Linked DNA regions of Homo sapiens: region 2 is linked to region 1. Evidence: fine-mapped expression QTL. A gene starts in region 1. The other region holds a variant in brackets. All regions are shown on one strand. Distances are between the middles of the regions. Region 1 holds the start of CACNB2 (calcium voltage-gated channel auxiliary subunit beta 2). Region 2 overlaps CACNB2 (calcium voltage-gated channel auxiliary subunit beta 2).

Region 1 (8,336 bases):
CCTAGCCAACATGGTGAAACCTCGTCTCTACTAAAAATACAAAAAAATTAGCTGAGCATGGTGGCGGGCGCCTGTAGTCCTAGCTACTGAGGAGGCTGAGGCAGGAAAATTGCTTGAAACCAGGAGGTGGAGGTTGCAGTGAGCTGAGATAATGCCACTGCACTCCAGCCTGGGTGACAGGGTGAGACTCCGTTTCAAAACACAAAACAGAACAAAAACAAAAACAAAACAAAACAAAAACCAGGGCTTTGAGAAATGTATCATTTTGTTTATGGCAATGTACTGGGGCAAAGGGACCGGAATGTATCAGGATGCTCCCTCTCTCTAGACAGAATGATTGATACAGAAAAGGAAAATGGCAGAGTTTGCAAATCTACATCTTCTGCTTTCTTCATACAAATATAATACTATAATCCAGAGGTGAGGTAGAATGATTCCTAAAACCAATCATTGCTTTAGAGGTTCCATTTGTAAATAGAAACTCCATTTCTAGGTAGAACTGCCCAATAATTCTGAGTAGAATTACTCGGTGCCACATACAAGGAGGATGCTCTAGAGCCAGCCTCCTTTCTCAGGCAGTTTTTACTGCTGGTCTGTTCTGCCCAAACAGAGAGATGGAAGAGATGGCTTTCCCAAGCCTCACACAATCCTATGATGCCATGATTTATCAGATATAAAATAAACAAGGTAATGTTTCCCTCAAATAATGGGTGTGAGATGAACGCAATTCAAGTCAAATTGCTTTCATTTTTGGAAGGCAGAGAAAGCAAGGAGATGAATGTTGATGCAGTTGAATATTTATATCTCTTAAACTTGCTTTTAAAATCCATTCTGCCCTTTCTCTTCTCTCTCCTTTATCTATGCAATCACTTGCTAATTCCTGTGAATTGAACTTTGAAATGTTTGATACATAGAACTGTCATATCCATTATCTTTTCATCTCTTTTTCGCTTAGGCCTTATTACCTCGGCCCAAACTGTTACATCTGTCTGCTGCCTGGCAGCTTCACCTCTGGACTCCTAAGACTTGAAACTATCTTACAGAACATTTCCAAGTGAATATTCCCAAATGAGCTGCTATGTGGGTCCTCTTTTGAACTCCTTCCACAGTTCCCTGTCGCTCAATACACTAAAGATTCCAAGTCCCCAAGATGTAGTCTCAAATTGCTTTGTCAGTTTTACGCCTGTGTCCAATCTTGACCTTACCATGCTCTTTTTGAACTAGAAACGATAAATTATCCTGTAAGACTTCTTACTTCTGGGACTCTGTTTCATGTACGACTGCTTACCAACTCTCTCAAAAATATCTGGTGTAATCTGACCCATCCTTCAATTCTCTTTGCAAATGCCACCTCATCAATGAAGTCCTTACAGATTCCTCCAAATAGCGTGTTTATTATCCTTATTCCTTTGAAGCCATTTACTAGTCAGAACTTCTCTTCCAGCCCCTATACATATATCCTAATTGCTGCTACTGGAATATAAATTCTTTGAAGGCAGAAATTGTGTCTTTTCACATCAGAATCATTTCCACATTGCTGCTGTACAATAACTTGACTTACATTTAATCATTGTACATAAATCACAAAGTAAATTAGTATCTCTTATCTGAATGCAGTTATGTGAGCCCTGACTTTGATGTCCAGGAATTTAGGAACTCTATTTTTATCATAAGAATAAAAACTTTTCTAAAATATCCCTCAAGGAAGATCAAAGGCAAATGAGGGTCTAAATGTCCTTTCCTTTGATGGAGGACTCGAATACTGATAGTATTCAAGACCTTCATCCTAGAATAACCGAGGTCTCCGGGTACATTTTTCATTCTGTCTAACCTGGCAAGCATCTAGATAAAAATCAGGAGTCTAGAACAAATGCAAACTCTATTGGTTAAAATTCAGATCCTCTGGCAGAGGCCAGATGGGAATGTAGCTGGTTCATTACATGTCCCTACTCGGCTTGTGAAGCAAACAGCCCAGGGTGGACCAAAATCTAGCTGTTTTACCACTACAAAAGAAATAGATTTCTGATTACACAAGTCCTTGGTGTCCACATTCTTCCCCTTCTCAAGTCAAAGTGAATTATGTGTTTTAAGTTAGCACATTAATTTCCCAATGGTAAAAGAAAGTTCAATAAAGCTAGACTACTATGCCACTTGGAACTGCCATGATTACAATATCAAAATATCTAGAGCACTCATGTTCCACCTATCAAAACAACAGCAAGAAAACATTTGCCACCTTTATTAGCTTGTCACACTCCTGCCCCCACTACTACAGCAAATGATACTCTAACATGCTCTCTAGTGTGTGTATGTGTGTCTACGTATTAATATATAAGTATATATACACACACATATATATCTTACCGCAAATTAAAATCTGGCAAATGTAGGCTTGAAATCAACAAGCCAACACAGTTAAGCAAACAGACATTTCTCCAGAATGCTGCCTGAAATGTAACCAAGACCTCTTCACATCACTGGCCAGCCAACAGCCAGCCCGCAGCTAGGAGTCTGAAGTCATTTCCCTGCCGGGAGAAAAGTTGAGCGACTCCTCATCGCTGAGACCTGGAGGTGTCTGTAACCCAAACTGTACCTGCTGAAGCCTTACGTAAAAACGTAAAAACCACCTTGTCATTGCCCAGCGCCTACAACTGACATCTCCAATTTCACAACAACCTGCAGCGAAGCTGACTTTTTCCAGAAACCGCAAACACTCAACGGAGAGAAAGGGGATCCTGGAGATCCCTGAAATGGCTAACATTTCAGGGGAGACGGAAAAATAAAAACTTTCTTGTCCCCAGCTCACTCGCTTCTTAAGGGAAAGGCATGAGGTGGGACAGGCAAACCTTGGCAAGTGCCCGAGGGGACTGGAGAGCTGTCAGCCCCAGGTGCGCAGCGTGGTCCGGGCAGCTCTGGGGGGATCCGGCAGGGCACCCCCATATTCGCTCCCCTCCTGCCCACCTGCACCCCATCATCCTCACACCCACGCCCACCCCGGCTCGGAGCGTGGCCAGGAGAGTCGGCATCGTAGAAAGCGCTGCGGGAAGCGGGCCCCCTCCCGCCCACCCGGACTCACGATCTTCAGCAGGTCCAGTCCACTCCCCTGATTCATGTCTCTCCATGTGCCTCTCCCGGGAAGGGGCGAGGAGGGCCAGCTGGAGCAACCCGGGAGAAGTCTGGGAGGACTGGCAGGTCTCCCCCGCCCTTCCCCACTGGCTTTTCGGAAGCAGAGAAAAATGGAAGCCGAGGCAGAGCCAGGAAAAGGCGCAAAGGGGCAGGGTCCCCGGCGCCAGGAGAGGAGCAGAGGGTGGGCAGGCGACGAGGGGAGGAGGTGCGAGGCTAGAGATCCCTGCAGTGGAGGCGCCGGGAGAACCCGAGGTCGGTGCCCTGCCCGGCGGCTCACAAAGGAAGGAGAAGGCGCCGCGCTCTCGCTACCTGTGCGGCGGCTCCGAGCGCCCCCGCGGGAGCCACGTTCTCTAGCAGTTCCATCTGGATCTCCTGCGCCACCGCCGCCGCCGCTGTGGGAGGCGACTTGGACATGTCCCTTTGGACCATTGGCGAAAAGTCGGCTCGGAGCGAAGCAGCCAGCCCCCGGCGGCGGGTCCCCTCCTCCTCGCCCCCGCCTCCCCGCGCTCTGATCGGCTCTGGGGGCCGCCCAGGGCTCAGGCCCGGCCGTTCTCGGCGCAGCGCCCCGCAGCGCCCCGGGACTCGGCGCCCTGCTGCCAGGCGCTCAGTGCGCGGGACGGGGCCGGGGCATCGGGCGAAGCGAGCCGCTCGGGAGGCGGGACGCGGGGGCGCGGCTGCGGTGCCTGGGAGAGGGGAGCCCTCAGCGGGGCAGCCGGGGCCGGGAGAGCGGGCGCAGCGCGGCGGGGATCGGAGCCGCGGGCGCCGGGAAAGGTCCTCGCCAGGAGGGGAGGGAACTCCGGGAGCGCGAGCCAGGGGGAGGCGCGTCGGAAAGCGAGAGTGACAAGCAGCCTACAAGCCGAAAAGTTCCTCGCGGGAGGCGCGCGCCGCGTGGGCTCCGACTCAGCCGCTGCGCGTCGCCGTGGCACACAGGCTGAAAAGTTTGCGAAGCCACAGAAGCCAGGCCCGGCGCTCAGGGGGCCTTGATCCTGTTCCCATGGCCCCAGACCACCCCTCAGGAACCCTTAGAGCAGATCTCTTAACTTTGGAGGGGAAGGACGACGGAGGCTGGGTTCCTACACTGAAAGTTTTAAATTTGTAAAGCCTGCTGGCAGCCCGGGAGAGCAAATGTCTGCAAAGAACATCTTCTGGGCAGCTGAAAGCCCTTGCTAATGTCAGTAATAAGGATCCAGAGAAAGAAATGGCATTGATAAAGATCATCAGGTGATCCCACCTGAATCTGCAGCTGGCCTCGTCAACTAGGTGGGAATCCACCCAACCTGAGACCGAATGTTTTGCTTTATGACTGCTGTCTTCATCTTTGCCAAATTAAATTAGCACTTCTTTCCAAACATAATTGAAGTTTGTTGTTGTTGTTGCTTGTTGTTGTTTTAGACGGAGTCTCACTCTGTCGCCCAGGCTGGAGTGCAATGGCGCGATCTCAGCTCACTGCAACCTCCGCCTCCTGGGTTCAAGCGATTCTCTAGCCTCAGCCTCACGAATAGCTGGGATTACAGCCACAGGCCACCAAGCCCAGATAATTTTTGTGTTTTTAGTGCAGACGGGGTTTCACCATGTTGCCCGGGCTGGTCTTGAACTCCTGACCTCAAGTAATCCACCGGCCTCGGCCTCCCAAAGTGCTGGGATCACAGGGGTGGGACACCACGCCAGGCCAGGGTTGAGGTTTTTCTATAGGGGTGAAAAGTCTTAGTGTCACATTTTTGACAAAACAAGCACTTCCTTAAGATCCAGAATTCTTGATAACAGGATAGTGACTATGGTGAGGGTGTTTCACTTACAACATTCCGTTCAGATAGTCCCAAGGAGCCACATTTTTACATGATTGAGTGCAACTTATTTCAACAAATTTTACTACAGTGGAAACTTCTGTAATGAGTTTTCCAGGCATTTTTTTTTTTTTTTTTTTGAGACAGAATTTCACTCTTGTCACCCAGGCAGGAATACAGTGGCACGATCTTGGCTCACTGCAACCTTCGCCTCCTGGGTTCAATCCATTCTCCTGCCTCAGCCTCCCGAGTAGCTGGGATTACAGGTGCACGCCACCACAGCCGGCTAATTTTTTTGTATTTTTAGTAGAGATGGGGTTTCACCACGTTGCCCAGGCTGGTCTCGAACTCCTGACCTCAGGTGATCTGCCCGCCTCTGCCTCCCAAAGTGCTGGGATTACAGATTTGAGCCACTGCATCCAGCCTAATTTTTGTATTTTTTAGTAGAGACAGGGTTTCGCCATGTTGGCCAGGCTGGTCGCAAACTCCTGACCTCATGATCCGCCCACCTTGGCCTCCCAAAGTGCTGGGATTACAGGTGTGAGCCACCGTGCCCATCCAGCTCCAGAAACCTATTTATATGTTATTTTGTAACAACAAACTGAAAGTTTGGTATATTGAAATACACATGCAAAAATTTACTATAATAGGCTTCAACTGCCTTCTATAGTTTACTATGATATATTAAATTACATGAGATACAGTACTTTTCTCCTCAAAGATAAGCATAGACATTTTAAACCTATCATCTCCACCATAGCACTGATTTGCGCCAGGCTTAAAGAATGGGTCTTGATACAGTTAAAGATTTAGCCATAAAGCATCATTGATTTTCCTAAACTTTGGTATTAAAAATGCCACTTTTATGGGCTACGGACACAAATAGAAAATTCTCAAAAGAAGATATACAAATGGCCAACAAACATATGAGAAAATGCTCAACATCAATAATGATCAGGGAAATGCAACTCAAAACCACAAAGTGATACCACCTTACCCCTGTAAGAATGACCATAATCAAAGAATCAAAAAACAGATGTTGGCATGGATGCAGTGATCAGGGAACACTTCTGCACTGCTGGTGGGAATGTAAACTAGTACAGCCACTATGGAAAACAGTGTGGAGATTCCTTAAAGGACTAAAAGTAGAACTACCATTTGATGTAGCAATGCCACTACTGGGTATCTACCCAGAGGAAAAGAAGTCATGATTCAAAAAATATACTTGCACATGCATGTTTACAGCAGCACAATTCACAGTAGCAAAATTGTGGAACCAACCCAAATGCCCATCAATCAACGAGGTGATAAAGAAACTCTGATATATATGATGATGGGATACTACTCAGCCATGAAAAGAAATAAATTAACAGCATTTGCAATGACCTGGATGAGATTAGAGACTATTATTCTAAGTGAAGTAACTCAGGAATGGAAAATCGAACATCATATGTTCTCACTGACATGTGGGAGCTAAGCTATGAGGATGCAAAGGCATAAGAATGATACAATGGACTTTGGTGACTTGGGGGGAAGTGTGGGAGGGGGCACGGGATAAAAGACAACAAATATGGTGCAAGGTATACTGCTAGGTTGATGGGTGTACCAGGTTCTCACAAATCTCCACTAAAGAACTTACTCATGTAACCGAATACCACCTGTACCCCAATAACTTATGGAAAAATAAAATTAAAAAAATTAAAATGCCACTTTTATTTAAATTTTGCTGAATGTTAAACAGCAGCACTTAAATATTGGTTTGTAATAATTTCTAAAATGGGAACATTTTGAACAGCAACAATCAGCCATGCTTTTATATGTATGCCTGTATGTATGTGTGTGTGAAAATGGAAAAGAAATTGTGTTTAAAGTTTTCGACTTATAGTCTACTTTTGCCCCATGCTCTGTTGATAATATCACTGTTTTAGGCCTACTCATTTAATCAAACTGTGAAGTTTTCTTGAGCATGTGTTTAAATCTTAGGGAAAACATTAAATCCATTTCAGACTGTAAACTCTGTGTGGACAGGAACCACACTTATTCTCTAGGACACATTCAGAATCTGGCAAGTTGCCCTCTGAGTTCTTTCAATAGTCATCCAATAAAGTATGAATCAAGCTTCTATTTTGTGCCACCTGATGAGCACAGCCAACAAAGACCAGGTTACCAGCTCCATGGGGCTTACAGTCTTGCTAGTTAGCACTTAAAAGCCAATTAATAAATGAAGGAAAGAAGGGAGGGAGGGAGGGAGGAAGGAAGGAAGGAAGGAAGGAAGGAAGGAAGGAAGGAAGGAAGGAGAAAACAAAAGAAGAAACATTATTTAAAAAAAAACACCAGGTTTGGTGAAACTGAGTGTTTTCTCATGATGTCTGTCCAGTTTCTTATAGCATGCTTATTTGTGCATTCGCTTTCAATTAGGACCATTTGGGAAGTAGAATTTCATCTTTCATCAGATGTTTAAAGAGACCGCAAAAAAATCAAAACCTTGAAAATAATTTTAATAACGCTTATAACCAGAGGGCAAGTAAAGTTTGAATTAAATGTTCAAATGTAATACAATATATTCATTTCATATAATTCATAATATGAACTCCCTGTTTTTTTATGTTTCTCCCTACCACTAGATAGGGTTCCTTGAGGGCAGTGATGGCGTCTTTTTCATCTTAGTATCCCCAGCACCACCCAGCATGGTGTCTGCCACTTAGTTAGAACGTGAAAACATTTGTTGTCTAAATGAATGCATGAATGTTGAATGACTTCTTGCGTCTTAAAACACAGCATACAACTTTGCCAGTTTTAACGTACAATGACAACATTTACCTAAGCCTGACTCCCATGAGAACATTATACTACTTCTTCCTTTATAACTCAAACTAGTTTAATTAGCATGCATTGAACACTAATCCAATACAATGTACCCATTCAGACTCTTGTCTGGCTTGTAAAAGATTTCAAACACAGAGTAACAAAATGTTACTCCTGAAAAAGGGAGCAAAATCAGAATAAACAGAATAAAAAGACTTGGAAAATGTATAGATGCCTTCAATCACGGTTGATCTTGTTTTTAAGATTCTTTGACTTGCGCAATATTTAAAAGCCACAGAGGAAAGCAAAAATTTGGTAAGTAAAGCCTAATTCTTTTCATGTTAAAAGTTAAGCAGATGCAAGAGACTCCAGCAATAATGGATGTGCCATCGACGCATTCAAATGCAGATGACTAATTTATTCAAGCTGTATGTTAGCTTCCTTGTGCTCATTAGTTGTTGTAATGGACAGACATATTCTGGGAATTACTAATGCTCTGAAATAGGAACAGGGGCTGGTAAGAGACACTGGCTAATGAAGCCAGACGTTTTAAAAGATTATTTTTTCTGTAAGTGGAAGAAACAGTGATTACAAGTGCTTTATTCTTCCTCTCCTGCTTGC
Region 2 (8,336 bases), 160 kb before region 1:
GAGAATTCCTCAGTTACCCTTCTTCTCCCCCTATACCTGGGGTCACAAATGTCAACCATGAGCATAACCTGGCTTCCAGATGGGTTCTGTTTGACCTACAGAGTGAGGTTGTTAATTTTTACTGAAGCCAACACTTACAAATTAGGAGGTGTTACTTAAAATTGGGACTTCCAGTTTGTCTTGAAAACTAACTCACACCAGCTATGGAATAAGGATAGAAGAAAGTAGAATGTGAAATTGATATAAATGGCTATTACATGGCAAAGTAATAATGAAAGACTGTCTTCTTTCATGACTTAGGAATCAAAAGATACGTTCATTGCAGATTTCGAGGATTTGTGCTGAGATATTATTGAGTTAATTTTCTCTGTATTCTGTTCTCATTTTTGTCATACTTAGCCAAATCTCCACTTCAACAGCCCCAGTTACATGTTTTACCTTATATTATTCTCCAATCTTATTTCAAAAAGGATCTGCTTCAGGGTCCTTCAGTTTACTTTTCCTCTGAATATTGAACTTAACCAATAAAAGCTGCCTTATGAAACAAGTGACATAATAAAACAATAGATAATGTAAGCTTTAAATTCCAAATTCTGTCTCAGCCTCATAGCATTTACTGTCCATGAAGTAGACGACATTTATTTCCTGTAACCCAAAGGCTTTCCTTGTTCTTAATTTTTAAAGTGATGAAGTTCCCACAGGGGAGAATATAAGAAAGGGAATGAGATAAAGGTGGAAACATGGAAGAATTGGAATAAGAAAAATCATTTTCATTCATTCTTCTTTTTACTTCCTTGTATAAGACACAAAAATATATGTTTGGCAGTAATGAGTCCTAAACTTCTATTTCTCAAAGTTGACATTTCAATTTCCATTACATCTTATTCCAAGAATAATGCACACATCTTTCTGCAGAGGAAATAAAAAGTGGGATTGAAATGTACAGCATGACCTGTGAGGAAAGGGACCGCCCCTGTTTTAATTAAGGAAGAGCAGAGAGAGAGATTTCTTCATGCTTATTTAATTATGTTGAAATGTTATCCCACAAACCGTAAGTTTTAAACTCCTAATAGCATCGAGCTAACATTCTTGCAAGATTTACTTATGTTTTGGAAATAGAGCTTTATACAGAATACAGAGAGGATGATCGCCTGTGCAGCGGCAGGCAAAGTCAAGGTTGTGTTCGCTGCCTTTGGTTCCTTGCCTTGGTGTTTCCCTAGCCCACGAAGCCTGGTTGCCAGGCAACCAGGGCAGCTTTGCTGAATATAGATATTAACAGGTTTAGGTTACATTGGGAAAAAAAAATGGAGTGAAAAAGAGCACAGGCTTATCCTTCACCTGGAAATTTGGGGAAACAAACAATGTTTTCAATGCAATATTTGAAACAAAATGTATTTAATACCTTTCTTAAATGTGCTGAATACTTTTTTTAAGCTCCACAACTCTTAGGTGGTATAAACATAGTTCATTTCCTCATTTGAGATAATATACTTGCCCATTGTGTATTGAGAAATAAACTTGTCCACTGCCACCATGACTTGCAATTCTACGTATGAAAACACTGATTAGGCCGGGTGAAGTGGCTCACACCTATAATCCTAGCACTTTGGGAGGCTGAGTCAGGAGGCTCGCTTGAACCCAAGAGTTTGAGACCAGCCTGGGCAACATAATGCAACCCTATCTCTACAAAAGATTAAAACATTAGAAGGATGTGGGGGTGCAAGCTTGTAGTTCTAGCTACTCAGGAGGGTGAGGTAGGAGGATCGATGGAGCCTGGAAGTTTGAGGCTGCAGCGAGCTGTGACTGTGCTACTGCACTCCAGCCTGGATGACAGAGCAAGACTCTGTCTCAACAAGCAATACTAATAAAAAATAAAAACACTGGCGGTTTTTCTAGATCTTGAATAAATTTTAATCTCATATAATGTTGCATAATGTCAAAACTCTTACACAGACATCATTTTCTTTGCAATTCATTGTCTGAGGTGGGTAGGACAGGTTTAACGCTCCCCCACTGAACGGACTGGAAAACAGACTTCATGAAGATAAGTAACTAGTGCCACAACTAGTCAAGGGCAGCGCTGGACACGCACCCCCAAGGACAGCCTGCCTTAACAGGTGTTGCCTCTCAGTATTTTTTCCAGGATAACTGAAAAAGTAGCAGAAAATGAAAACCTTCATATGGGTTGCCTTCATACGGGTTGCACAGCTTCTAAGAATTCAGTACTGGCTCTTATGAAGAGAAGTAAGTGACATCTGAGACACGTGGCCCTGGATTGTGTTTCTTTTTTCTCCCTTTTTTTTAATTTTCTTTTGGTTTGAGATGGGGCCTTGCTCTATCACGCAGGCTGGATTGCAGTGGCGTGATCATGGCTCACTGCAGCCTTCCCAACCTGGGCTCAAGCGAGCCTTCTATCTCAGCCCCCTGAGCGGCTGGGAACAAAGGCGTGCACCACCATACTTGACTAACTTTTAATTATTATTTGCAGAGATGACGTCTTACTATGCTGGCCAGGCTGTTCTTGAACTCCTCAGCTCAAGTGATCCTCGCACCTTGGCCTCCCGAAGTGCTGGGATTACAGGGATGAGTCACCATGCCTGGCCTTCTCCCTTTCTTAAACATTTCTCACATCCTTATCTTTTTGCCAGCACTCCCGCACAGCCATGAGAGAAAAGCAAAAACAAGAATAAACTGTCTATTCCTTCAACTCCAAAGGTGACACCAGTAGCCAACAAGGACATCCTCCACTGTGAGTGCCACCATGAGACTAACGAGTCTAAGGAGACCCCCGTGAAGCTTCAGAGTTTAAAGGACAGCTGATTACAGGTGTGAAACTATAAAAGAGCTTTATGAAGAGAGATGCGATCTCTGTTCAGCACAGATTACACAAAACTGCAATATGCCTGCAAGTCTAGAAAAGTCTACTGCACACCTGTCATTTGCATTTTAGTTTTATTTTTTATTTTTTATTTCCATAGGTTTTAGGGAACAGGTGGTGTTCGGTTACATGAGTAAGTTTCTTTAGTGGTGATGTGTGAGATTTTGGTGCACGCATCACCTGAGCAGTATACACTGAACCCAACTTGTAGTCTTTTATCCCTCACCCCCTTCCCACCCTTTCCCCCTGAGTCCTCAAAGTCCATTATGCCATTCTTATGCCTTTGCATCCTCATAGCTTAGCTGCCACTTACGGTTGAGAACATATGAATATAATGTTTGGTTTCCCATCCCTGAGTTACTTCCCTTAGGATAACAGTATCCAATCCCATCCAGGTTGCTGTAAATGCCATTAATTCATTCCTTTTTATGTCTGAGTAGTATTCCATTGCGTACATATCGCACAGTTTCTCTATCCACTCGTTTATTGATGGGCATTTGGGTTGGTTCCACATTTTTGCAATTGCGAATTCTGCTGCTATAAACGTGCATGCAAGTATATTTTGTATAATGTCATTCACATTTAAATACAGGCGCTATCGCTTCTGCTGCTGCTATGCTGCAGATCTGCAAGCAGCTTGGAAGACTG[C/T]TACAGCAACAAAGCGCCCCCCGACCCACCCCTGACCCCATCAAACTTCCCTGGACTGCTGCTATTCAGGTTCTGGGCATCACTGGGACAATATCTCAAAGTCTGTTCTACAACTTTGACTGCTAAATGAGTGATTTCATTTTGATTTCTTTACGTCAAGTTGGGAGGCCTGATGTGGGCAATTTTGATAAATCAATTACTATGCTATTTCTTCATTCTGCTTGGTAAGACTTTTCCTCCTAGTCTTTCTTAAGGCTATGTTTACTTTTATAGAATGCATAATTTGGGTTATTTTCTTGGGTTCCAGGAAGTGTGACATATTCATCTCCTTCCTATGTATTAGAAACAGGCGGCTGGGCGCGGTGGCTCATGCCTGTAATCCCAGCACCCTGGGGGGCCAAGGTGGGAGGATCACGAGGTCAGGAGATCGAGACCAGCCTGGCCAACATGGTGAAACCCCGTCTCTACTAAAAATACAAAAATTAGCTGTGCGTGGTGGCAGATGCCTGTAATCCCAGCTACTCGGGAGGCTGAGGCAGGAGAATCATTGGAACCCAGAAGGCGGAGGTTGCAGTGAGCTGAGATTGTGCCACTGCACTCCAGCCTGGGTGACAGAGCAAGACTCCATCTCAAAAAAGGAAAAAAAAAAAAAAGAGAGAAAGGCTTAGTGGATTTACCTGAACAGCTTGTTTCGTTTGTTTTTGCGACAGGATCTCGCTCTGTTACCCAGGCTGGAGTGCAGTGTCATAATCATACCTCACTGCAGCCTCAAACTCCTGGGCTCAAATGATCCTCCCACCTCAGCCTCCTGAGTAGCTGGGACTGCAGGCATGTGCCACCATGTCCCGCTAATTTTTGTGTTTTTTTGTAGAGCGGGGTCTTGCTATGTGGCCCAGGCTGGTTTCAAACTCCTGGCCTCAAGCAATCTTCCCACCTCAGCCTCCTAAAGTGCTGGGATTACTGTGGAGCTTGTTTATCAAGGCAGAAAAGATGCCAGAACCATGTCATTCACCTGTTGGGGCTTTCCTTCGTGCTATCAGAGAGCGCAAAGTCAGCTCACGTCACTCCCCTGGTTTGACTTGGGAAGTTAATAACAACGATAAATGTAAAAGTTCAGAAACAGCAAATGGTGTCAGGATTAAAATCACCAAACTTCTGTGGTGCCAGGAACACTGCTACGTTTGCACTTCCGAACACGAGTCCCCTTTTTGAAAAGGAGTGGTGGTTTTCTCTCTACCTTGAGAGTCTCCATCTCACTTTCACTTTTGGGTAACATGCAAGTTAAAATAGCGTTCTTTCCTCACTCATTTTCTTGGGAACTGACACTAGTCCTTAGGAAATCCTATCTTTCTTTTTTCCCCAGAGTACTCTGAATATTCTGTTACTTTTTTTCCCAGAAGTCAATGCATCATTGTTGATTTGGATTGCGCTTTTTATTTTTATTTTTTTGAGATGGAATCTCGCTCTGTTACCCAGGCTGGAGTGCAGTGGCACGATCTCAGTTCACTGCAATCTCTGCCTCCCGGGTTCAAGCAATTCTCATACCTCAGCCTCCCGAGTAGCTGGGATTACAGGTGCCCACCACCATGCACGGCTAATTTTTGTATTTTTAGTAGAGATGGGGTTTCACTATCCTGGCCAGGCTGGTCTTGAACTCCTGACCTCGTGATTCACCCGTCAGATTGCATTTTTTAAAGGTGTTAATTGCCAAAAGGCATAACAAACACCTAGAGTTTTGAAATACGTTGTCATTGCTGTAATAGGTTCTGTTAGTTTTAGTAACATAAACACAAATGTATTTTAGACAAGGTGATAGTATTTCCAATGATCTCTTTATTTCACATCACTTTTGCTGATAAGACTTACTTTTTATCTTGGCTTAGTAGAAGTAGCAGCAATGAAATTTCAGGAGTGTAGGAGTCAACTTGTTACCCAAGGCACAGCAACAGACATACAGAGATATTAATACACAACACCGCTGGGCGTGGTGGCTCACGCCTATAATCCCAGCAGTTTGGGAGGCCGAGGTGGGCAGATCACCTGAGGTCAGGAGTTTGAGACCAGCCTGACCAATAGAGTGAAACCTCATCTCTACTAAAAATACAAAAATTAGCCAGGCATGGTGATGCACGCCTATAATCCCAGCTACTTGGGAGGTTGAGACAGGACAATCACTTGAACCCGGGAGGTGGAGGTTGCAGTGAGCCGAGATAGTGCCATTGCACTCCAGCCTGGGGAAGAAGAGTGAAACTCCGTCTCAAAATAAAAAAAAAAAAAGAAATGCAACATGCATTCACTGGGTAGAGGCTCTACCTATGAAAGTGGTGGAGAACAGGGTCGGAAATTTAGATTGAGACTGACTATAGATGTTCCTGAAGGCCAGACTAAGAAATCTAGATTGGCATCAGAGGTGATTTTAAGTAGCATGGTCCAGCATAATCCCAGCTGCTCTTTCTCGTGACATCTCTTATCATCAATATACATATTCTTTGCATTCTTATGATTCATTCTCACAACCATCAGCAACATGAGTTATAATGATCTCCATTTTGCAGGTGAAGAAAGTTTTTTTTTATTTTTATTTTTTGAGACAGGGTCTGACTCTGTCACCCAGTCTGGAGTGCAGTGGTGCGATCACTGCTTACTGCAGCCTCAACCTCCCAGGCTCAATTGATCCTCCCACCTCAGCCTCCTGAGAAGCTGGGAGTAAAGGTATATGCCACCATGCCTGGCTAATTTTTGTATTTTTTGTGGAGATGGGGTTTCACCATGTTGCCCAGGCTGGGAAAGTGACCTTCAAAGAGACTAATTAGTATATCCAAAGTCACAAAACTGATGCCTAAAGCCAGAGTAGGCCAGAGGTGCAGCCACGCTCCCGCTCCCCTTCTCCACTGAATTTCTGAGTAACCACAGTGGAGCTTTTCCTTGGGAAAACTCACACTTTCCCAGGCCCTACTTCTTCCTACTCCTTCCCACCATGATCATCCACCCGTACTCTGTTATGACAATTAGAGTGAGCATGCCATGTATTGTCCAATCCAGAACACTTCTGAGAAAGAAAGAGAACTATTAAGAATTGTGGGCAAGAGGCATTATATGCGACTTCTGGTGCTCCTAGTTTTAATGAATTCTTGCAAAAGGGTTAATATTTACTTGGTAACTTTTTTTTTCTTTTTTTATTTTATTTTTTTCTTTTTATTTTTTCTTTTATTTTTTATTTTTTTTTTTTTAGTATACTTTAAGTTTTAGGGTACATGTGCACAACGTGCAGGTTTGTTACATGTGTATACATGTGCCATGTTGGTGTGCTGCACTCATTATTTACTTGGTAACTTGATTTGAAGCCTCTCACAGTGCAATCTCTCCAACCTTTTCTCCAAAGGCACTATCCCTGAGCTCGTCTCCATCTAAGAGCTCAAAGGTGTGCCCACACAGCCCATACAGCAGTTTTTGCAGAGTGGAAGAAACCCGCCATTCTTATTACCTCTGCTTTACCTCTTACCTTTAAATGAGGGATTATCCATCTGCCCCTCTCACAGTGCAGTTGAACTACAAGAAGGTGGCATGTTTTCTCTGAAAGGTCCGGTGACCTGCTGGTCAAGACATCTAATGTCCACCAGGGCTGCAACTCACAGCCAGCCTGCACTAAGGCTGGAGTAGTGGAGACAAAATCCCCAAACCGGATATAGACCCAGATCTCTTGGAACTGGCTATGAGTTGGTAACACATTGCACATTGTATCACCTCTTGATTTTAGGGAATGATTCACAACTGGTTCTCCCATTCCTGGGCCCTTACGGCCTCACCTGTGGCATTTAAAATGATCTATGACATAGATCAACATTTTCTCCTAGAAATTTCACACTGTACATTCTCTTCATTGTTTAGTCTGGATATAGTGATCTCAAGGTTAGGTTTTTTTTTTTTTGAGACAGAGTTTCGCTCTTTCGCCCAGGCTGGAGTGAAATGGCGTAATCTCGGCTCACTGCAACCTCCGCCCCACCGGATTCAGGTGATTCTCCTGCCTCAGCCTCCCGAGTGGCTGGAGTTACAGGCGCCCACCACCATGCCCAGCTAATTTTGGTATTTTTAGTAGAGATGGGGTTTTGCCACATTGGCCAGGCTGGTCTTGAACTCCTGACCTCAGGTGATCCACCAATCTCAGCCTTCCAAAGTGCTAGGATTACAGGCGTGAGCCAGTACGCCCAGCCTCAAGGTTAGGTTTTAAATGATATTTTTCCTGCACTGTCTCGAGTTATCTCTTTTTACCTTCACCCACATAGAAAAAGCAAAAGTTCAGCAAGACACTTAGTAACTTGGGGGGCATTATTTGATTCTCCTTCCCTTTCTTTATCCACATTCTTCGGCCTTCACTCCATGATCGTCAGACTCAGAAATACCTGGGCTAGATGCCCAACCCAGGAGGAAGCACATTTGCGCTGCAGGGTGAAGCACTTCTGTGGAGGGATAGTGCACTCCAATGCACTTTAATCCCTCCCTCCACATAAGAACTAGAGTTGTTATCACAGCAAAACGGAAGAGAGATGTTCCACCAGCTGAAAGCTCATCTCACCTAAAATCTGGGCTCAAACCCAAGGGGAAGAAGGTAGAGAGCAGGGAGTGGAGCAGCCCTGGGCTCAGGTTGGTTCTGAATCCCTCTCCTGTCTTCTCCGTGGAGGAATTCAGTCGGCCTGGAAATGTTTAATTATCTATGGATGGTGAGAAACTTTTCTTTTTTTAAAGACATGGTCTCACTCTGTCATCCAGGCCGGAATGCAGTGTCATGATCATAGCTCACTACAGCCTCCAA

Evidence for each region. PIP is the estimated chance that this variant, and not a neighbour inherited with it, causes the effect.
Region 2: its variant is fine-mapped to the expression of CACNB2 in skeletal muscle (GTEx, PIP above 0.99).

What each region holds. Positions count from the first base shown.
Region 1 is chr10:18,135,956-18,144,291 of GRCh38, reverse strand. CACNB2 (calcium voltage-gated channel auxiliary subunit beta 2) reads right to left here and starts at 3,868. Exons shown (of 14, transcript NM_201596.3): 1 at 3,436-3,868. The coding sequence starts at 3,555. RefSeq lists an enhancer at 7,403-8,336.
Region 2 is chr10:18,297,488-18,305,823 of GRCh38, reverse strand. The region is part of intron 2 of CACNB2 (calcium voltage-gated channel auxiliary subunit beta 2); the gene reads right to left. Among named protein-coding and RNA genes, the nearest start is that of CACNB2-AS2, 40 kb to the right of the region's middle. The variant C/T (reference allele first, on the strand shown) is at 3,527.